Homo sapiens: one gene and its partner. The protein of the gene in region 2 purifies or fractionates together with the protein of the main gene of each other region. This does not show direct contact. Each region holds a gene or a part of one and is shown on either strand. Other genes may lie near its edges.

Region 1 (3,500 bases), on a different chromosome or scaffold from region 2:
CGTCTGCTGCTTCACCTTCTGCGGTGTGTAGTTGGAGATGTCCAGGATCACGTTGGGCTCGCTGACGTGGCAGTCAAAACTGGGATTGTAGAGCTGACTAAAGGCCTCTGAGGCCCAGTCCAGGCCTCCATAGCCCTGCCGGAAAGGCCACTGAGAAGCCCCCGCAAACTGCCGACAGTTCTCGGGCGAGGGCTGGAAGGAGGAGGAGGAGGAGGAGGCGGCAGAGGCTGCAGAGGTGGCAGAGGCTGTGGTGCCCTTGGGTACCATGTAGCCACCGGGCGAGACTGTGCTGGCCCGGCTGTCACAGCGCAGGGGCGTGGGGGCTGAACCAGAGAAGGGGGCCCCCTCAGAGCTGCTGAAGAAGGAGGCCTTGCTTGGTGGCAGGCAGGGGCCCCCGGTAGGCGGTGGGGCATAGCCGGCGCTGTGGGCGCTGCTGGGTGAGGCAGGGAGGCTGTTGCCACTGCCATAGGCGAAGCTGCAGTCCTTGCTGTTAGCGCAGTCCTGGCCTGTAAAGGGCTTAGTTGGGGCGAATACGCTTTGTCCGGCCCCATAGCCGCCGTACTGGGGCAGGTAGGTGTTGGCAGGCGGGTGGGTGGTAGGTGAGCGGGCCATGGCTGAGGGCGGGGGCACCAGCTTGGGGAAGGTCTCGGCTGCCCGGCAGTCTGAAGCGGCTGGAGTTAGCCCATAGCTTGCTGCTCGTCCTGGTGGGAAGGTCTGGCGCGCGGACAGGACAGGCTGAAAGGAGGGGTCCGCCCCAGCCCCGCTGCTACCCACTGCCACTGGGCTGGCCTTGGCTCCCCGGCTAGGGAAGGTGGCCAGGCCCCGCTGGGCAGGCAGGGCACTGGTGGGTGGCCCTGCATAGGTGCCCGATGCCTTCCGGGACTCTGGGCGAGAGGCTGAGAGGGCAAAGTCCAAGAGATCGGAGGAGTCATCCGAATCGAGCAGCGAGCGAAAGTAGCCGGTGAAGAGGTTTTGGCGCTCCTGGCTGAGCTCGGTCTGGCCTGAGGGTGCACCCGTGCTGTAGTAGCTGCCACGGCCTGAGGCTCCACTCTCCAGCCCAGTGGAGGCAAAGGCCCGGGCCTCGGTCCCCTGAAACCCACAGTTTCGGCCAGCTTGTCCGCCTGGGTGCCCATGGTGAGGGGCCCAGCCACCACCCTTATCCCCGGCCCACTCAGCACCTGCCTCCCCAAAGCCTGGGCCACTGGGCACCTGCTCTGGGAACAGAGTCCCATTCTTCCGGGACCGTCTCTTGCGCTTTGGCTTCCCAGTCACAGCGTCTACCTCCCCCCGGCCCCGTTTGCGTGGGTGCCCCAACTCAGTAAGGCCCGGGCCCCCGACCCCAGCGGCTGCCACGGCCACCACCTTCTTTTTCTTGCCGATGCCCTCAAAGAAGTCACTGAAGGAGCATCGGGCTGACTTGGCCGCATGGCCCCCACCCCGGCCACCAAAACCGCCTGCTTTGCCCCCACGCCGCCGGAAGCCCTGCACACGATGCAGGAAGTGGGAGATGCTCTGGGTGTCGGGGGCCTGGTGCACCGACTCCGGCTCACTGGGTGTCCAGCAGCGGGGCGGTGAGCACCGTCCAGCGCACTGGCTCTGGCGGTTCAGGAAGGCCAGCTTGGCCAGGACGTCTGAGTACTCGGCCTTGCTGTCGTTGGCGTCTGCTGCATAGGATGGCTGGGGAGATGCCAGCTTCTGCTTCCGCCGCCGTCGTTTTTTTACCTCTGGCATGGCCATGGTGGCCGCTGCCACAGTGGCTGCCTCGGCCGCCACCACAGCTGGCTCCTTGGGCTTGCCGGGACCCAGCAGCAGGTTCTTAGGAGGGCGGCCGCGCTTACGTTTGAGAATAATGGGCATCTCACCGGGTGGGAAGACCACTACCACGTTCCGCCCATTGTTCTTCATCTTCAGCAGCGGGGTGGGCTCAGCCGACACGCGCAGGCCCAGCTCCTTGCCCTCCACGCTCAGGCTGCTGCTCAAGGAAGACACTTTGTATGTGGTCTTGTTCCGCCGCCCCAGCGATACGGGGATCTTGGCCATCTTCACCACCATGCGCCGCACGCCCCGGCACTTGCCTTTGCGGGTAGAGACCACTGGGGTCTGGGAAGATTCCGGCTTCAACTCTGGGACTGAGACCGGGCCTGGGCCTGGCAGGGCAGGGGGTGGAGGAGGCGGTGGTGGTGGGGGTTCGGCCAGGGCAGCCACCAGCCCCGTGGGCATAGGCAGGGGCAGTAGGCGGCCCTCGGGTCCGGCGTCTGCCTTGCGTCCCCGTCCGGCTTTCCGCCGGCGACACAGGATCTTTGGCCTATCAGTGCGCCGCAAGGCGTACTTGGGGTGACCCTCAGGCCCGGGGGGGCCGTGCGGTGAGCACAAGTCCAGGCGCAAGGGCTCGGCCAGTGGGCAGTGCCCCAGGGGCTGCTGGGGCTCCAGACGGCGACCTGGGACGTCAAGCAGCTTGGGCAGGGGGTCGAGTGCCTGGGGGTCAAGCAGCTGCGACTCCAAGGAGTCAGGCAGGGTGTCCAGGGCCTGGAGAGCCAGGCCCGGCAGCCCCAGAGGATCAGCAAGAGGTTGCAGGGGTGGCAGCTCCAGAGCTTCCCCGAGCGGCTCTAGTGCCTGCGGGTCCAGGAAGCGGGGCTGGGGGTCCAGGAGCTGAGGCTCCGGCTCGGGCGATGGTGGCTCGAGGGCCTGGGCCTCTAGCAGCTGGGCCTCTGGGCAAGTGAGGGAGGCCAGCTCACTAAGGATGTCGGCGTCAGCAAGTTCTGAGTAATCAGTGCTGTCTGGCTCAGGCTCTGGGGGCAGACCCGTGGCCGCAGCCGTGGCTCCGGGACTATGGCCTTGGCCAGGCTGGGGACTGTCCCTAGGCTCAGGCTCAGGCTCGTAGAGGGGATGGCTGGGCCGCTCCGACTTGGCGTGTGGGGTGGCCCGCTCCTCAGGGCTACGGATGCTGTTGGCCAAACTGGGTGAGGAGAAGAAGCTGTACTGTAGGTCGCCGGGTGGCGGTGCAGGCGGGCGGCTCAGTCGGAGCCCACCACAGTCCAGGTGTACACCACTGTGCTGCAGGTCCTGGGAGAGGCGTGTCAGGTCCTTCATGATGTCAATCAGCTGCACCACTGGTCGCAGGTTCACCCGCCCGTTGTCCCAGCAGCGTCGGGAGCTGCTGCCGTCTCCGACCGGTGTGGGGCAGCGGGCCTGTGAGACAGGACGGGCTGCCCGTGGGGGCAGCGGGTCGTCCCCCTTGGCAAGGACTGGTGGGCGCCGGGTGCTGGGGTCCCGGCGTGGGGGTGGGCGTGGGTTCTCGGAGAAGGCGTGGGTGGAGAAGGCCTTGTCAGGTGGGCTGGCAGGGGGCCGGGTGGGAAGCAGGGGCCGGGGGGTGGGGGGGCCGCCGGGGTAGTACTTGGGTTCCCGGAGGTAGTCAGGAGAGCTGCACACGGCACTGGAAGTCACCACCAGGCCCTGGGGCTTCACACGCATCCTGACCTTGTCCTCCGCAGGCCGCCGGG
Region 2 (3,500 bases):
ATTAAACAGCCTTTAGAATGGGTAAAAGTAAAAAGATTGACAACACCAAATATTGGTGAGAGACTGGAACTCATATACTCTTGCTAAGAGTGTAAATGAGTACATCTGCTTCACCAGCATCTACTGAAGTTAGACACCTGCCTATGCAATGTCCAACAATTACACTTTTAGATAAATAACCAACAGAAATAAGAATATTCAGGTATTTTTGTTCTTAATATCCAAAAACTGGAAACAACCCAAATATCCATCAAGTATGGATAAACATATTCATATAATGGAAAACTGTATAGCAATAAAAGATAATGAATTACTGCTACGCACAATATGGATACATTTCTCAGGCATGCTCAAAGGAAACCAGATGCAGAAGAGTATATGATTCTATTTCTCAGAAATTCAAGAAGAGTTAAAATAAACCTATGGTAACACTAGTTAAAACAGTGATGGGGGCCAGGCATGGTGGCACATGCCTGTAATCCCAGCAGTTTGGGAGGCTGAGGTGGGTAGATCGCTTGAGCTCAGGAGTTTGAGAACAGCCTGGGCAAAAGGGTGAAACCCCGTCTGCATAAAAAAGTACAAAAATTAGCTGAGTGTGGTGGTGTGCACCTGCACTCCCAGCTACTCAGTAGGCTGAGGTGGGAAGATCACTTGAACCAGGCAGTTGAGGCTGCAGTGAGCCATGATGGCACCACTGCACTCCAGCCTGGGCAACAGAGCAAGACACTGTCTCAAATTAAAAAAAAAAAAAGTCACTGAACTATACACTAAAGATATGTGTACTGTATGGTACTTAAAATCAGAAATAATAATAATAACTAATGAAATATAGACTACCCAGAAATCTATATTGCTGAAATGATTTCTTCTAAGTTCATAATACACAGCATTAGTTTCACTACATGCACTTGCTGAGAAACCATGTAATGTTTTCCTGATCTAAAAAATTATTTTTGGGCCAGGCGCGGTGGCTGATGCCTGTAATCCCAGCACTAATGGGAGGCCGAGGTGGTTGGATCACTTGAGGTCAGGAGTTCGAGACCAGCCTGGTCAACATGGGGAAACCCGTCTCTATTAAAAATACAAAAAAAAAAAAATTAGCTGGGTGTAGTGGCAGGTGCCTATAATCCCAGCTACTCAGGAGGCTGAGACAGGAAAATCGCTCAAACCCAGGAGGCAGAGGTTGCAGTGAGCCAAGATCACACCATTGCACTCCATCCTAGGCAACGAGGGCAAAATTCCATCTCAAAAAAAAAAAAAAATTATTTTCACCTCTACACTTAAGCTTTTGATAACTTCAAATAATTTAAATAAACTAGTACTCAAGTTGACTACCAAAAATAAAGAATTTTTTAAATAAGTGATAAGAAAGTATCCTGTAGAAATTCATTTTCTAGTCAATTTTAAATTTAACAAAACACATATCTACATATACACAATGGAATACTATTCCGGAATGAAAAAGGAATGAACTCACGTCTTTTACAGTAACACAGAACTGGAGACCTTCATCTTCAGTGAAACAACTCAGATTAGAAGCTCACACCTATAATCCCAACACTTTGGGAGGCCAAGGCAGGATGACTGCTTGAGCCCAGGAGTTTGGGACCAGCCTGCACCACATGGTGAGACCCTGTCTCTAAAAATATTTATTTGAATTAGCTAGGTACAGTGACACCACCTGTGGTCTCAGCTGCTTGGGAGGCTGAGGTGGGAAAATCGCTTGAGCCCAGGAGGTCAAGGCTGCAGTGAGGCATGTGGAGAATCGCTTGAGCCCAGGAGGTCGAGGCTGCAGTGGGCCGTTTTTGCACCACTGCACTCCAGTCTGGACGACAGAGCGAAACCATTTCAAAAAGAAAAAGAAAAAAGAAAAAAAAAGAACTCAGAAAGTCAAATACCACATATTCTCACTATAAGTAGGGGCTAAATAATGTGTATACACATGGACATAGAGTGTGGAATAACAGTCATTGAAGACTTGGAAGGCTAGGAGCAGTGCAGTGAGGGATAAGAAATTACTTAATGGGTACAATGTACACTATTCAGGTGATGATTACACTAAAAGCCCAGATTTCACCACCACACAATATACCCATATAACAAAGCTGTACTTGTAACCCTTAAATTTATACAAATAAAAAAGTACATGTCATTTTAAAAGGAATGTCAGTTTCTTAAATTTTAATTTACAAATTTATATCCCAAAAATGTCTCACTGGGTTAAAAGTGCTTCCATCCTGTTTTGTAGTATGTTCCCCTATTTCCTTTCATTAATGCTACTGTGAATTCCCAAATATTTATGTTTTTTTCTTCTTGGCCAACTTTGTCTAATAAAAAAATTTACAATTTTTTTATAGCTGACTTGCTCCATCTTATACCAGGTTAGCTCTGGAGTGTTTAAATAAGCATATGATGTGCCTCGACTTGAGACTGTATGGTATAGTTACCATGCTCAAGAGTACATATTTTAAAGCTAGACAACCTAAATTTGTATCTCGGCTTACTAGTTGTGACTTCTCTGAGTCTCAGTTTCTCATCTGTAAAATGGCGGAGAATATCTGCCTTTTTAATCGTTCAGATTAAAGCATGATAGTCCATATTAAGGCATTTAGCATTATGACTAACACATAGTTAGTGCAAAAGAAATGGTAACTATAACATTTTATAGTCAAGTATCTCCCTTTAAAAGACTGTAGTATATTAGCATTAGCATATAGGAAAATCTCTCCAATTACTCTCATTCTAAATATATGAGTCAAAAAACTAAAAGCATAACTTTTCCCACTCATTCACTTATTTATTCCATAATTTTTTTTTTTTTTTTTTGAGACGGAGTCTTGCTCTGTCACCCACGCTGGAGTGCAGTGGCACGATCTCGGCTCACTGCAACCTCCACCTCCCAGGTTCAAGCGATTCTCCCGCTTCAGCCTCCCCAGTACCTGGGACTACAGGCAGGAAGCACCATGCCTGGCTAATTTTTTATGTTTAGTAGAGAGAGAGTTTCACCATATTGGCCAGGCTGGTCTCGAACTCCTGAGCTCAAGTGATCTGCCCACCTTGGCCTCCCAAAGTGCTGGGATTACAGGCATGGGCCACAGCACCCAGCCTATTTATTTGACATAATAGTAATTATCATTGCCTGGAATTATGCTAAGTGCTTTACACAAATTATTTTCCTTAATCCTTATATCATGAAATCAATAATGTATAATCTCCATCTTATAGATTAAGAAATTAAGATTTGAGGAATCCAAATAACTTGCCCAACGTTACCATAGTGATCCATCACCGGTCATATTCCAGAGATGGTACTCTAAACCAGTACACTCTAGGCATACTGGATGCTATGGGGAAATAAAATTAATGACAGTCCCTGTCACAGTGTTAATAGTATAGAAGTAGACATTAGACAACTCAGCAAGCTAGAATATATGATGGAATCTGATAATTATCATATAAGAGGCATAAAGACCAACAGAAGTGCAGAAACAGGCATAAAT

The links. The genes of interacting proteins can lie anywhere in the genome.
Region 1: the proteins of SENP7 (region 2) and AHDC1 purify together in Homo sapiens (affinity purification with mass spectrometry; one large-scale study listed by BioGRID and IntAct). This does not show direct contact.

The regions. Positions count from the first base shown.
Region 1 is NC_000001.11:27,548,645-27,552,144, forward strand, and holds part of AHDC1 (transcription factor Gibbin), read right to left. Parts: 5' UTR 3,472-3,500; coding exon 1-3,471. UniProt on the Homo sapiens protein: Transcription factor required for the proper patterning of the epidermis, which plays a key role in early epithelial morphogenesis. Directly binds promoter and enhancer regions and acts by maintaining local enhancer-promoter chromatin architecture.
Region 2 is NC_000003.12:101,503,213-101,506,712, forward strand, and holds part of SENP7 (sentrin-specific protease 7), read right to left. Parts: intron 1-3,500. UniProt on the Homo sapiens protein: Protease that acts as a positive regulator of the cGAS-STING pathway by catalyzing desumoylation of CGAS. Desumoylation of CGAS promotes DNA-binding activity of CGAS, subsequent oligomerization and activation.